2 separate regions of the Homo sapiens genome follow, and region 2 is linked to region 1. The links come from fine-mapping of genetic effects on gene expression. Tissue or cell type: whole blood. Region 1 holds a variant in brackets; the other region holds the start of a gene. All regions are shown on one strand. Distances are between the middles of the regions.

Region 1 (8,109 bases):
GGAAGCACTATTTAGGCTGTACTGGGGTGGTTTGAGTGGGGATTAGACGCAAAAGAGCCCAATACAGAGACTGCTGGAGCAGCCGTGGTAAGGAAAAGGCAGAGAGAAAGGCAAGAGAGGACACCTTGTGAGATATTTAGAGAGCTGAATGTTTACTATACTTAGTGGCCTTTGAATACAGGAGAGAAGAGTTGAGGGTGTTCTGTTCCCTGAACTTCTGGTTTGGGAGACTGGGTAGATGGTGAGAACACTGACCAAGACAGAAAGATTAGGCTTGGGGAAAAAGATAATGAGTTCATTCTTAGACATGTATGTTAAAAAGTGTTGTAGGATACTTATCAATAACATTGACAATACCCTTAATAATGACAAGAAAGTTAAATAAAAAACGTGGTTCTATAGTGAACTAACCTATTAATTAACAACATAACCAGTAAGTCATATAACTATATTTTGTTCTGAACTCAAATAGCATCTACACCTTTTTTCTCTTTCCTTTCTTCTTTTTCTTTCTTTCCTTCCTTTTCTTTCTTTTTCCTTCCTTCCTCCCTTCTTCCTTCTTTCTTTTTCTTTCTTTCTCTTTCTTCTTTTTCTTTCGTTCGTTCTTTTTCTTTCTTTTCTTTCTGATTTTTGACTTTCCGACTTTCTAACTTTCCTTTCTCCTTCATTCCTTCCTCTTTTTCTTTTTTTCCCTTTTCTTCTTTCTTTCTAACTTTCTAACTTTGCTCTTTCTCCTTCCTTCCTTCTCTTTTTCTTTCTTCTTTCTTTTCTTTCCTTCTTTCTTTTTCTTTCTCTTTTGTTTCTCTCTTTCCTTCTTCCTTTCTTTCCTTTCTCTCTTTTCTCTCTCCTTCCTCCCTCCCTCCTTTCCTTTCTTTTCTTTCTCTTTTTTCTTTCTTTTCTTCTTTGTTTTCTTTCTCTCTCTCCTTCCTTCCCCTCCCTCCCTCTCTTCTTTTCTCTTTCTTTTCCTTCCTTCCTTCTCTTTCTCTTTCTTTGGTTCTTTCTCTCTCTCCTTCCTTCCCCTCTCTCCCTCCCTCCCTCCCTTTTCTTTTTCTCTCTGCTTCTTTCTCTTTCTTTTCTTTCTCTCCTTCCTTCCCCTCCCTCCCTTTCTCTCTTTCTTTTCTTTTCTTCTTTCTTTCTTTCTTTTTCCTTCCTTCCTTCCTTCCTTCCTTCCTTCCTTCCTTCCTTCCCTTTCTCTCTTTCATTTCTTTCTCCTTCCTTCCTTCCTTTCCTTGTTCTTTCTTTCTGAAAGAGTCCCTACTGTCACCCAGGCTGGAGTGCAGTGATAAAACTATGGCTCACTGCAACCTCAATCTGCCAGGCTCAAGCAATGCTCCCACCTCAGCCTCCCGAGTAGCTGGTACCACAGACGCATGCCACTATGCCTGGATAATTTTTGCATTTTCTTTAGAGACAGGGTTTTGCCAAGTTGCCCAGGATGGTGCTGAACTCCTGGGCTCAAGTGATTTGCCTGTCTTGGCCTCCCAAAGTGCTGGGATTACATGTAGGCATGAGCTGCCACACCTAGCTACCTTTCTTTTTCTGGTCTAAACAAAATGTTCCTTTTAATTTATCTCTAAATCTTAATTTTTTTTCCCTAAGAGACAGGTTTTCTAAAAATCTGGTCCTAAATTTACATCTGAAATATTACATGCATGGTCACAACTGCATTTCCTGTTTTTCAATACAGTGCCAAAATCCACGTGATCCAAAATACGGATGATTTAAAAAATAACTCCGACTTTCCTTGGGACACATTTATAAGACTTTTCAGACCATTGTGGGTTCTGGTTTACAGATACCGCTACAAATTATAAAAGTAGTTAACTTACCCCAAAGATGTTTCATACACTGAAAAAGAAAGATGAACCACAAGGATGTTGGGTGTCTGGAGATGAATTTAGTATCAAAGGGTGGTTTAACACCAGAGAAAATGATCACTAAGAGGTGACTGTCTCCCTTTATCTTTATTGCAAGGGGACCGCTCCAGGCCCTGCCGCTTTGTGGGGCTACTGTTTGCAGGCCTGGGTGCTGTTCTAGGCTACAGTCTCTTGTAGTCATAGGCTTTTGCTAAAAATTTTCACCCTCCTCCAGCCCTGATGGTTGCAACCTGCACCACACTACTGTGTTCACTCTCAATATTCTTATGTTCAATATCATCTTCCATCTCAGTCTAATCCATTACTAAATATTTTTTCTTTAAAAAAGTCATCGTCAATTCACAAAGTATGTTTGTTAATATTTTTGATCTCCAAGTAGAAACACTTTAAATTTTATCATTGGCCAAAAGCATCCATCAGCATCTTTATGTTCTTAGAAAGTGTCACTGGATATTGGAAACTGCGTAAGGAGTCTCCAAGAAATGGAGTTTAATCTCTGCGATGGATGCTTCTCATGCCATGCCAGCCCATTTCCCAGCTGGAGCACCCATCCTCCAGTGTGGTCAGGGGACTCCTAAGGATGCCAGAGAACCTTTCAGAACGTCCATGTCAAAACTGTCTTCACAGTAATACTAAGACACTCACTTTCCCACAAGTGTGCTCACAACAGAATTTTCCAATAACTACCTGACATGGGCTATTGTAACATGTTGAATGCAGAAGCAGATATGAGAATGCAGCTGTCTTCTGTTAAGTCTAAAATTAAAGAGATTTGCAAAAATGGCAAAACGGGACCACTTTTTTAAGTTTCTAAGATTTCACCTATATGTGAAATCTAAAAAAGTCACACTCATAGAAGCAAAGAGTAGTATTTTTCATAAAATATTTTATTTAATATATAGTGGTTTTAATATTTATATTTTTACTTTTACTACATTATTTTGAGACAGAGTCTCACTTTGTTGCCCAGGCTGGAGTGCAGTCACATGATTCGGCTCACTGCAACCTCTGCCTGCCAGGTTCAAGTGATTCTCCTGCCCCAGCCCCAAGTAGCTGACATTATAGCATGATAAACATGCCGCCATGCCAGGCTAATTTTTGTATTTTTAGTAGAGATGGGATTTCACCATGTTGCCCAGGTTGGTCTTGGACTCCTGACCTCAAGTGATCTGCCCACCTCAGTCTCCCAAAGTGCTGGGATTGAATACAGGCATGAGCCACTGCGTTCGGCCACTTTTACTACATTACTTTTAATAGCAAAACCAGCAATTACTTTTGCACCAATCTAATACATAAATAAAAATTAAACAAATGTAAAAGAATTTCAGTTTTATTTTCTAACACAGTAAATATTGACAGACATAACCCACCTACATAAAAGCTTTTGGAGGAGCCTCAATAGATTTTAAGAGTGTAAAGGGGTCCTGACACTAAACAGTTTGAAAACTCTGCTCTGTGAATCAATTATAGAAAACTTTTATGTTTCAAAATTGAATGTGTATGCGATGAGTGGAAATTAATTCACAGAATTAAATTAACGTGAGAGTTTAGCTAAGGTTAACCACTATATCACTAAATCACAAAACATCACTCCCTCATATGTCTCATTACAGATGACATCTGGATGATGTATCCAGAGATGAAATCTGCTGTCAACCAGGCTATGAGAAACAAATTTCCTTAAAACGCAAGGTGCAGCAGACTAACATGGCACATGTATACATATGTAACAAACCTGCACGTTGTGCACATGTACCCTAAAACTTAAAGTATAATTAAAAAAAGAAATATCCTAAGAAAACAACACATATCATCTTATGGGTTAGTTTGTATGTAGACAAGACTATTATCTGTTTTGTCCAAAGTTATGACAATGTCTTGTAGCTTGTCTTCTCATCAAGAGCTCAATTTTATTATTATGTGATTATTTGATCTGTAAGAATTTGTGCCTAGGAAAAATTCAAATTGATTTATAAACTTAAAGACATATATTAATATGTTTTAAAATAATTTCTTTATCTTTTAACATAAACCAACAAATTTATTTCCCCTCAAAAAATAAAAATAAAACTAAATGATTTTTCTAACCA[G/GA]AAAAAAAAAACCCAAGAGGATTAACAAAAAACAAAATATTTTAAATAGAACAAACAAGACATTTTGCTTCAAAAATATAGGTCAATGTGACTCTTCAACTAATATACGCACTTATTTTGATTTCCAACAAGTGCTTCTACACAAACCACATGTAATCACTGCTGCAAGACCATGCCTTTTTCCATCAACAAAATTGTGGGCATCTTTTGTTAAAGATGTCTATTTAAGGGTCAGAAAGAAGCCTTTGCACAAATTTATCTTTCGGTGCATCGAGTTCTCATTTCTTTGTACATGTCCCCACCTTTCCCCTTCTTCTGAACCTCAGTACTCCTTCCAAAGTCTCGAGTCTATCCTTTTTTAAAAAAGTGCAGTAAATAACATAAAAGAGAACAAAGGAGAGACAATTTTTTTTTTGAGATGGAGTCTTGCTCTGTCACCGAGGCTGGAGAAGGGAGACAAATACTGAGAGAACCACCTTTACAATCATTACAACATACATGAAATGATTCAAATCTTCAAGATGGGGTGTCAATTAGTGTAAGCTCTTCTATTATACTATACACAGCTATCAAAACTCTAATAAAGGAGAACTACCAAATGATCTAGTTGTCTTGCTTCTGGATATATATGCAAAGGATTTGAAATCAGTGTTGAAGAGATATCAGTACTCCTATGTTCACTGGAGCACTATTCACAATAGCCAAGACATGGAATCAAACTAACTGTCCATCAGTGAATAAACAGACACAGAAAATATGGTGTGTATGTATACACAGTGGAATACTATTTAGTCTTAAAAAGAAGGATATTCTGTCATTTGAGACAACATGGTTGAACCTGGAAGACAATATGTTAACTGAAATACACTAGGCACAGAAATAAAAATTCTGAATCATCTCACCTATATGTGAAATCTAAAAAGGTCAAACTCATAGAAGCAGAGAGTAGAATGGTGACTACCGGGCCTGGGTGGGGCGGGAGGTGAGGATGGGGAGATGTTGGTCAAAGGGTACAAAGTTTCAATTACAGGGGAAAAATAAGTCTTTTTTAAAAATATACTTTTATTATACTTTAAGTTCTAGGGTACATGTGCACAACGTGCAGGTTTGTTACATATGTATACATGTGCCATGTTGGTGTGCTGCACCCATTAACTCGTCATTTACATTAGGTGTATCTCCTAATGCTATCCCTCCCCACTCCCCCCAGCCCACAACAGGCCCCGGTGTTGATGTTCCCCTTCTTGTGTCCAAGTGTTCTTATTGTTCAATTCCCACCTATGAGTGAGAACATGCGGTGTTTGGTTTTTTTACCCTGCGATAGTTTGCTAAGAATGATGGTTTCCAGCTTCATCCATGTCCCTACAAAGGACATGAACTCATCATTTTTTATCACTGCATAGTATTCCATGGTGTATATGTGCCACATTTTCTTAATCCAGTCTATCATTGTTGGACATTTGGGTTGGTTCCAAGTCTTTGCTATTGTGAATAGTGCCACAATAAACATACGTGTGCATGTGTCTTTATAGCAGCATGATTTATAATCCTTTGGGTATATACCCAGTAATGGGATGGCTGGGTCAAATGGTATTTCTAGTTCTAGATCCCTGAGGAATCACCACACTGACTTCCACAATGGTTGAACTAGTTTACAGTCCCACCAACAGTGTAAAAGTGTTCCTCCTATTTCTCCACATCCTCTCCAGCACCTGTTGTTTCCTGACTTTTTAATGATTGCCATTCTAATTGGTGTGAGATGGTATCTCATTGCGGTTTTGATTTGCATTTCTCTGATGGCCAGTGATGATGAGCTTTTTTTGTGTGTCTTTTGGCTGCATAAATGTCTTCTTTTGAGAAGCGTCTGTTCATATCCTTCGCCCACTTGATGATGGGGTTGTTTTTTTCTTGTAAATTTGTTTGAGTTCTTTGTAGATTCTGGATATTAGCCCTTTGTCATATGAGTAGATTGCAAAAATTTTCTCCCATTCTGTAGGTTGCCTGTTCACTCTGATGGTAGTTTCCTTTGCTGTGCAGAAGCTCTTTAGTTTAATAAGATCGCATTGGTCAATTTTGGCTTTTGTTGCCATTGCTTTTGGTGTTTTAGACATGAAGTCCTTGCCCATGCCTATGTCCTGAATGGTATTGCCTAGATTTTGTTCTAGGGTTTTTATGGTTTTAGGTCTAACATTTAAGTCTTTAATCCATCTTGAATTAATTTTTGTATAAGGTGTAAGGAAGGGATCCAGTTTCAGCTTTCTACATATGGCTAGCCAGTTTTCCTAGCACCATTTGTTAAACAAGGATTCCTTTCCCCATTTCTTGTTTTTGTCAGGTTTGTCAAAGATCAGATGGTTGTAGATGTGTGGTATTATTTCTGAGGGTTCTGTTCTGTTCATTTGTCTGTGATTCTGTTTTGGTACCAGTACCATGCTGTTTTGGTTACCATTGCCTTGTAGTATAGTTTGAAGTCAGGTAGCAGGATGCCTCCAGCTTTGCTCTTTTGTCTTAGGATTGACTTGGCAATGCGAGCTCTTTTTTGGTTCCATATGAACTTTAGTTTTTTCCAATTCTGTGAAGAAAGTCATTGGTAGCTTGATGGGGATGGCATTGAATCTATAAATTACCTTGGGCAGTATGGCCATTTTGTCCATATTGATTCTTCCTACCCGTGAGCATGGAATGTTCTTCCATTTGTTTGTATCCTTTTATTTCATTGAGCAGTGGTTTGTAGTTCTCCTTGAAGAGGTCCTTCATATCCCTTGTAAGTTGGATTCGTAGGTATTTTATTCTCTTTGAAGCAATTGTGAATGGGAGTTCACTCATGATTTGGCTCTCTGTTTGTCTGTTATTGATGTATAACAATGCTTGTGATTTTTGCACATTGATTTGATATCCTGAGACTATGCTGAAGTTGCCTATCAGCTTAAGGAGATTTTGGGCTGAGACGATGGGGTTTTCTAGATATACAATCATGTCATCTGCAAACAGGGACAATTTGACTTCCTCTTTTCCTAATTGAATACCTTTATTTCTTTCTCCTGCCTGATTGCCCTGGCCAGAACTTCCAACACTATGTTGAATAAGAGTGGTGAGAGAGGGCATCCCTGTCTTTGCCAGTTTTCAAAAGGAATGCTTCCAATTTTTGCCCATTCAGTATGATACTGGCTGTGGGTTTGTCATAAATAGCTCTTATTATTTTGAGATACGTCCCATCAATACCTAATTGATTGAGAGTTTTTAGCATGAATGCTGTTGAATTTTGTCAAAGGCCTTTGCTGCATCTATTGAGATAATCATGTGGTTTTTGTCTTTGGTTCCGTTTATATGCTGGATTATGTTTATTGATTTGCATATGTTGAACCAGCCTTGATCCCAGGGATGAAGCCCGCTTGATCATGGTGGATAAGCTTTTTGATGTGCTGCTGGATTTGGTTTGCCAGTATTTTATTGAGGATTTTTGCATTGATGTTCATCAGGGATAGTTGTCTAAAATTCTCTTTTTTTGTTGTGTCTCTGCCAGGCTTTGATATGAGGATGATGCTGGCCTCATAAAATGAGTTAGGGAGGATTCCCTCTTTTTCTAGTGATTGGAATAGTTTCAGAAGGAATAGTAACAGCTCCTCCTTGTACCTCTGGTAGAATTCGGCTGTGAATCCGTCTGCTCCTGGACTTCTTTTGGTTATTAAGCTACTAATTATTGCCTCAACTTCAGAGCCTGTTATTGGTCTATTCAGAGATTCAACTTCTTCCTGGTTTAGTCCTGGAAGGGTGTATGTGTCCAGAAATTTGTCTATTTCTTCTAGATTTTCTAGTTTATTTGTGTAGAGGTGTTTATAGTATTCTCTGATGGTAGTTTGTATTCCTGTGGGATTGGTGGTGATATCCCCTTTATCATTTTTTATTGTGTCTGTTTGATTCTTCTCTCTTTTCTTCTTTATTAGTCTTGCTAGCGGTCTATCAATTTTGTTGATTTTTTCAAAAAACCAGGTCTTGGATTCATTGATATTTTGAAGAGTTTTTGTGTCTCTATCTCCTTCAGTTCTGCTCTGATCTTAGTTGCCTTCTGCTAGCTTTTGAATTTCTTTGCTCTTGCTTCTCTAGTTCTTTTAATTTTGATGTCAGGGTGTTAATTTTAGATC
Region 2 (8,109 bases), 320 kb after region 1:
GGGCAGGGCACGAAGTGCCTAAATCTGTCAGTGGTAGGGGGAAGGGTCAGGGAAGTGTATATTATAAGTTGTGGTTACCTGGCTGAGTCTTGGAAAAGTTAGTCAGATGAATGGGAAGTGGGAGCAAAAGAAATAGCATTGGAAAAGAGAAGCAGGATCATGAAACGGTGTGGCTCCTTGCGGGAACTCCAAGGAGTTTAGGTGTGTGAAGTTGTGGTCATTTTAGCAGGGTAATCAGAGGCCAAATCTTGCACACTCTTGTACAGAGTTCTGTCCTGATCCTGTATGTAGTGTTGGGAACCCATGGGCTTTATTCCGAAGGTAGTCTTGGGGGTTATATGTTAAATAGGCTTAGTCAGGGCATCAAAAGTAAAACTGGAAGTTCTGCAATTTTTCAGGTAAGAAATAATGATGAACCATTGTAAGACAGTGGAAGTGAGGGTGAGACTGGGTGAATCTAGGAAATACTTGAATGACAAAATAGATTAGGCTTTATAACGTATTGGATATGTTAGGTGAAGAAGAGGTAAAAGGCCAGAATGGCTCCTAAGTTTGTGGCTGGTGAGCAGGTGAATGCTGTACTAAAAGAATGTAAATTAGGGCCGAAAACAGATTTGGGAGGTGAGATCATGAGTCAAGTTTTCCACTTATCATATTTAATGTGCCTATGGGGCATCCAAAGAGTGATATCCTGTAGAGAACTGCGTACGTAAGTTAGGGGCCCAGAGTCAAGATCTTAAGTGGAAATACAGACTTGGGAGTCCATGGTAAATGTAGGGTGGGGAAATCATGACAGTGGGCCAGGTCATCCTAGTTTGTTTAGAGGGAGGGCTGATGTTCTCAATGAAAACCTGAGGGAAGGCCAGCATCTAACCAGTACACAGAGAAAGAGAGGTCCACAAGGAGACGGAGAAGAATCAGAACAGGAAGAAACTCAGAAAAGTATGCGGGCCCTGGGAGAAAAATGGCCCACAGTGAGAAATTCTGGACAGAGTATCATAATGACTAGCATTCTTTGGGTTTGCCAGTTCCAGTTACGCATTAGGAAATAAATTGTTTCTTATATAAGAAATTCCTTTCTTTTCTGAAGTACGGTTACAATTTAATTGTTCTCTTATATTTTATTTTTATTCATTTATATCTTGACTAATATGGTGTGTTTTATTCTTTTTATTCAGCTGTCAACTTTTTGAGGGTAGGGACCATGATTTATTCATCTTTAAATTGTGAATTATGTTGGCACAAGGGATCACTAAAATATTTATTGAACGACTGAATAATTGATAGTTACTTGTTTAAGCATCAAAAATATAAACTTTTTTTATGATTTTTGCTGGAAACATTTATAAACTGCATTGTTTGTTTTTCTGCCTTTTAAAGTGGAGCATACTGAACATAATGTAATCTTCCATTTGTTGGGATGACTCCATTGTATGGATATATGGGCTGTTTACCCTGCACTAAAATGACTGCACTGTACTTGGTGATTCAGCCTTATCTCTCCTCTTTCTTTTCCTTGATGAAGACCAGAAGGCAAGATTAGTATTTGTCAGATTTTTGAAATTCTGAGGTAATAATACTTACATGCCAGTTATTTGTATAAAACATATATAATTTCTCAACATTTCATATGATATTCACAAATTTAGTTGAATGGGGAGAAGACAGGCACATAGAATCAAAGTTGAGGTCAGAAGTAGTCTTTCTATGCCTCAAGTTGTGAGTGCATAGACAAAAATTTTAAAATACTGGTTTTTATACATTTTTAAACTTACGTTGTCTACTTCTATAAGAGTTAAATCTGTGAGTTTTAAATAAGATAATAGGTTATTTCCACCTTTTTGTAAGGTGCATAATATTTTGTCATCTTTATAAAGCTGGCTATCATTAAAGTTTTTAATGTAGTGGTAGAACTCAATTCATTTTTTCCAAAGGAATTTAGAAACTGGAAGACAAATCTTCTATATATTATAAGAATAAATATATCCATAATGTACAAAGTAAGGTAAACATTGATCTTATGCATATCCAGGGTTTAGTGTAAATTTGTTTGATCCAATTTACAGCTTGAATAAAGATTTACAATAATCAAACAATTATTGATACTTGGGCAGGTAGATTCCATGAAGGCTGTGATAGTAGCATATTTTAACTCTGTATCTTAAGGCTATATCCAAATGTATAAGTCAATTGTTAAATATATGGAGCTCTTGAAATTTGACCATTTCATGAGTTTAAAGATCCTGAATGTGAAAAAATAAAACATGTTGTCTGCTTCTTTCAGACTATTTTGGCCAAAATCAAAATGTTATGATTACTTATATCAAGAAGCAGAAGCTCTTCTGAAAAATTTTCCAATTCAAGCCACAATTTCATTTTATGAAGATTCTGATAGCGAAGATGAAATTGAGGATCTGACCTGTGAAAATTAATCTGATTAGCTACTTTTGATTATATCCAAAGCTTGTGGGGTTTAAATTTAGTGTACAAATGTATCATAATTATTTTAAACTAATTTATTTGTATATAAATTATTAATAAAATGAAATATTTTGTAATTATTCTGGTATTTGGCCTTTTCTTTATCCCTACACTAGAATTGAATGTTGGAATCTAAAACAGGTGCCATCTACAAATGTCTTGATTGTATTATAAATATTTGGGGCTTACAAAGAATACATTTTTCTTTTCGTTAAATTGCACATTTATATTTAGTTATAATTTTGCAAAGAATGACAGTATTTAATTCTCAAGACTGAATCTTTTAACATCTGCTATTTCCTACTGATGCCAGTTGGATGTTGTAGTTACATATCAATGTTATCTTATTAGATAATGAAGAAAATAGACTTATGTTAGAAATCACTCATTTATTAGTAAAGATTTCTTAGCAGATGGAGAAAAACACATTAAATCATTACCTGTAATTGAAAAAGGGAATCAATCTTAGGGCTTTTAAATTATAGATATTTTAAATAAATGATGAGCAAAGTAACTCATATTTTAATACTCCTCTTCAGTCCTTAAATCCAGTAGTAAAATAGTATGGATGTTTAATACTTAATGTACTACATTGAGGGATCCCTAGAATTAAAACAAAACGTTTAAATTTGAGTGATTGATATGGAGTCTAAAAAAGTGGAGTCTAAAGGCCAGAAGTTGATAGCATCTTCCATTTCTGTACAAAGGGGAGCTAAGAAATTTGGAAAGCATGGAACATTCTTCAACAATATTAACTTTTCCTTGCTCTGGTTCTCTGCTTTTGATATTCTTATGTAAAAGTTTTCTCACGAGAAGTGAAATAAATCTCAGTGATTAGTTTTTCTTGTGTAGACTCTAGAAGAATATGTCATCATTTAATGAGAGAGAACACAGAAGCAATTTGCAAAGTCAAAGTAATACAGTTAATTATAGTCATGAGGTTCTTTTAGCTCAAATTCAGTCTTCTCATAATAAGCATTTCAATTGCAAATAAAAATGGATAGAGGTGAATGTCATAGGTGGCTACCTTATTTGAATGCTTGTATTTGAATGGCCACATATAGTCACACACTTTTTCTTCTGATTCTGCAAACATAACCTTGATTTTTTAGGCACTTTAAGAACTAAGTAGTTAAACAGAGAAAGTTTAAAGCATGACAATATGTTCAGAGTTAGGAAAAATTAGTAATTAAAGGAGGATGGGGAGGATTATTTAGAACTATGTTTCTTCTCCTGAAAACTTTCTCCCTTATTGGATTCTACTCTCAAGATCTATGTGTTCCCCAAGGGACACACAAAACAATCAATCAAACAAACAAAAACCATCAGATTTTGAGCATTAGAGCCTGGTGTTTACCTGCACAGTGTTGGTCCTTTTCCCATTAATATGTTGGAATAGCACAAACAGCCACTGCCACTTATTCAGTACCTAATATTAATCAGGCACTGCAGTATGTAGTTTACACATGATCCTTTAATCTTTAATAAACCCATTATGCAGATGGGGAAAATGAGACTTTGAGATACTAAAGTAACTTGCATAAGACAGCTCAGTCATTAAGTGCAGGGATGGCATGCAAACCAAATCTGACTTTTAAACGTTACTTCATCACCACAGCTGGAGGTGAGCTGCATCAGTACACAATTCCCAGTGAAGACAGGAAGTTACATAAGGAGGGAGAATTTGTGAGTGGGTGAATAGAGCAGAAGGTGACTTTACTAACGTCTTTCGCGCATTCATTAGCCCTCAGCATGCTTAAAGGTGAAGTTTAAGGATGATTAAAGGTGAGGTTTTCTTCTTACCCCACAGTAGTGGCTGTTGACATTTGATATTTTTGCTCTTAAAGGTGTGAGATGCTCTTTGCATTACAGCCTAGTGCCTTACAGGAAAGAATTTCAGAGAAACTAAAATTCGTTTTAGTCCATATTTCAAGTAGTGTGTTTTAGTCCATATTTCAAGTAGTGTGATGGTACTGCTTAACAATGAACAGACATTGCTGTTCCGGGTTAACAGGACTAAGAATTTGTTCCCACATTCGGTCAGCACCAAGGCTAAGGAACAGCTTCACTCTCTAATCTTTCCACGAAATAGCTGTCACCTTGCTCCGGTGCTGAAGTTCGGGATGCGGAACTAGCTGAGCATGCGTACTTCCTCCCTGCCGGCCCTCCCTCCGTCCCGTTGGCTCCGCCCTCCGCGGACGTGCTGCGTCAGAATGCGCCTCACCCCTGGCGACCCCGGAAGTGGGTCGGGGGCTTGGCCTCTGCCCGGCCACAGAGCCGGAGCTGGAGGTGCTGTCCCGTCTGGCGGCGATCCCCGGGCAGGGCCCGGGGCCGGGGTTTGAAGATGCTGAACGTCCCTTCCCAGTCTTTCCCGGCCCCCAGGTCGCAGCAGCGTGTCGCCTCCGGGGGGCGTAGCAAGGTAAGCGGGTGGCTCCGTGAGTCTCTCCCCTCGCTGCGTTTCGAGCTCTGGCAGTGTGTTCTCTTCTTCCGCCCCAACTCCCAGCTCCTGCACCCCTCTCTAAGCTGTCGTTCCCTGCTGTCCTTGCCTGCAACCTCTTTCTGATCCCACTTTGTCTACAGTCCCTAAACTCTCCTTACCTCCTCCCTTTCCCCTAGCAGTCCCTCTTCTTTCTGGTCCTTTATCCCGCTCTATCCGTTCCCTTCCTCCAAGTCCTTTCCCGCGATTTAAATTTATATGACAGAGCCAGGCACTGTGTTTGCGGTATTATAGGCTCTCGGTATTAGCCGCCTTCCCTCAACCTCATCTTCTCCCTGGTCTTTTGTTCTTCACTGCCTGAAGGAGTTGTACCACATCACTCGATGTGGGTTCCCTCGCAGGAGGGAAAGGCTTGGCAGTGGCGACAGTGACCGTCCGTGCAAGGATGGGGACTTCTGGAGTTGGGGAGCTAGGTCAGGTTTACAGACACTATCCAAGACATACTGCCTTTCTTTCTTCCTCTGGTACCTGATTGTTTTGTCATTGCCTTTTCTACTAGTATCACTTGCTAACTTCGAAGCAAATATAATAATACTCTTGAGTTCTTGTTGAGCACAGTTGCTGTTAGCAACAGGTGGAATACTGTACAGATATATTTTATATTTGCAGAATTCAATAAAAATTGTGTTCTTTGTTCTTTTGCGAATGTTGTTTGTTCCTATTTGTTAGTTCCTCATTCTGTAACCATATCTTTATCTTTCGTTTGTGACACTTCCACTTAACTTGGGCCACTCGGTTAACTCTTGAGTCTTAGCATCGTTTGGAACCCTTATCGATTTTCTTATTTTTCTCCACTTAGACCTGGCGTTCTGATTCTAGTTCAGAATGAATATAGGTTCAGGGATCTGTGGTTTTCATTAGCTTTCCAGAGATTTCTTAAGTACTTACGGGTGGCCGTGTATATTCTCAGTGCTTTGCATGTATTAACTTTAATTTTCACAATTATCCTTTGAAGTGAAAGCTTTTATTGTCTCTATTTCGCAGAAAAGGAAACTGGCTAAGAAATATTGCCCTAAATTGCGTAGGCTTGTGTTGTGGTTCTGCTGTGAAATTTCATTTACTGATTCATATATCAATCATCTAGCCATCCAATCATGTATATTTTTCTCATTGGTTTTTGACCTATTTCTTGAAGCTAAATACTTGACTGAATAACAGTCTTTCCAGAAAGAATCTCTGAATTAGAATATGAGTTACTGCCCTTCTTCGTTAAAAATACCAACTGTGTTCTTAGCATCCATTTAAAGGAGAAAACTTAGAAGCAAAGACAAAAAGTCACACAGGGGGCGATGGCAAAGGTGAGTTTTTGGTCCAAAAAGAGAACAAAATAAGATTATTGTGCAATTCTAAGGAAAAGTCAGACTCCAGTCTTCTTCCTCTTTTCTTTGTGAAACAAGATGATGCTGAGAATGTAAAAACTGAGTCAGGTTTGGATGAAATGGGTAGAGGTTGAGAAAATAGAACCAAGTTGGGAAGGTCGTGTATTATACAAAAGGTTCTCAAATAGTGTTGTTTCATTCAACAGCATTTAGTTATAATATTGATGAGAAAAAAAATTCGTTTTGGCCAGGGCCACTGTCTTTGGAGTTTGCATGCTCTGTGTCTGCGTGGGTTTTCTCTGGGTACTCTGGTTTCCTGCTACAGCCCAAAGATATGCAAGTTAGGTTAATTGGTGTGTCTAAATGGTCCCAGTCTGTGTGAATATTGGGTGTGTATGAGTGTGCCTTGCCATAGGATGGCATCCTGTCCAAGGTCGGTTCCTGCCTTGTGCCCTGAGCTACTGGGATAGGCTCTGACTACCTGTGACATTGAACTGGAATAGTTGGGTAAATAATTATCTTACTTGTTTTTTAATTAATCTTTCTTAAATGTATATATAGCTAACATTTCTTTCAGTGTTTAATATTAGAAGTATTTTGGTCTTTATTTAGAAGTCTGGTGATGTTTTTGTGACCAGAAATATGCTGCAGGAAATTTTGTTTGTCAATTAACCCACGGTAAAATTAGTTTCGTTGTACATAGTTTAGTTTCCAAGCACCTAGTGACTAGCTTAAGTGAAGGCTTATTGTAATTTTTTAAAGGCACAGATTTTGAAGTGAGAAAGACCTAGATTCTTTCACCATATCTGCCAGTTAATCTCTTTGAGTCTGTTTCCTCAGATGTAAATGAGAATAACAGTACCCATTTTATAGGATTGTTCATAGGATTCAATGAGATAATGTTTCTCTTAGCACAGCCTTGGTAAGCACCCAGTAAATGCTACTTGTCCTGAGGCTTTTATTCAGATCTCACAGACTTGAGTGTGACACAGAATATGCACTCAACATATGATAGTTATTATTTCTATTAATACTGGTAAACAAATACTTATTGAGAACCTACCATATGCTGGAGTTTTTGGTCTCTGATTTCAAGGTGTTTAGTCTCATAGGTTGCATGAAATAGTGAACATTCAGTTATAAAGTCATAAGTACTACAACAGGGTGGTATGACCACTAAGGAGTTGAGGATCAGAGAAGCCTTCCAGAGGAATTAATGGGAGTTGGAGTGAGGTTGATCCATGCAGGGAAAGCAACACTACTATAAGCAAGTACTTGACAGCAATAAAGGAATCAAATAATCAGTTCCCATTTGGCTAAAGTATATAATGGAAAGGAGCAAAAGTTAGAACATGGAGCTAGTACAGTCAACTGTGACCAGATTGTGAAGACCTGGTAAATCCCTAGGGAATTTAGAGACGTTGTTGTAAGGTGACCTGAGGAGCCACTGAAGGAGGGAGAGCCTGTGATTAGATTTGCATTTCTGAAAGATTGCTTTAACTATCCTGTGGATTATGGAATGGAGAGAGGTGAGTGATTTTAGTTTGGGATGGGAAAGGTCATTTTCTCACACTTCATTTATTGGGATCAAGAGACCTAGAGTTTCAGTGATAGCCAGAATGGAATGATGTAGATTGATAGGATAGAATGTGAAAGGCACCACAGACCTATTAACTTGGTTACTTTGGGAGTAAATGGATGTCTAAAATAGATATGATTCAGGAAAGTGAGATATGTAAACATCCTTGAATGTGTCTGCTTTTACATTAAACATTCTTCTGTTACTACGTTACAAATTAGTCAGACAAGCTT

The links. PIP is the estimated chance that this variant, and not a neighbour inherited with it, causes the effect.
Region 2: CYB5R4 starts here. The variant in region 1 is fine-mapped to the expression of CYB5R4 in whole blood (INTERVAL, PIP above 0.99).

The regions. Positions count from the first base shown.
Region 1 is chr6:83,536,402-83,544,510 of GRCh38, forward strand. No RefSeq gene overlaps it. Among named protein-coding and RNA genes, the nearest start is that of PRSS35, 28 kb to the left of the region's middle. The variant G/GA (reference allele first, on the strand shown) is at 3,968.
Region 2 is chr6:83,854,958-83,863,066 of GRCh38, forward strand. It overlaps CYB5R4 (cytochrome b5 reductase 4), which reads left to right and starts at 4,732. Exons shown (of 16, transcript NM_016230.4): 1 at 4,732-4,900. The coding sequence starts at 4,826. RIPPLY2 (ripply transcriptional repressor 2) reads left to right here. Exons shown (of 4, transcript NM_001009994.3): 4 at 2,285-2,558. The coding sequence ends at 2,432. The region is part of intron 3 of RIPPLY2-CYB5R4 (RIPPLY2-CYB5R4 readthrough); the gene reads left to right. RefSeq lists a silencer at 4,803-4,852.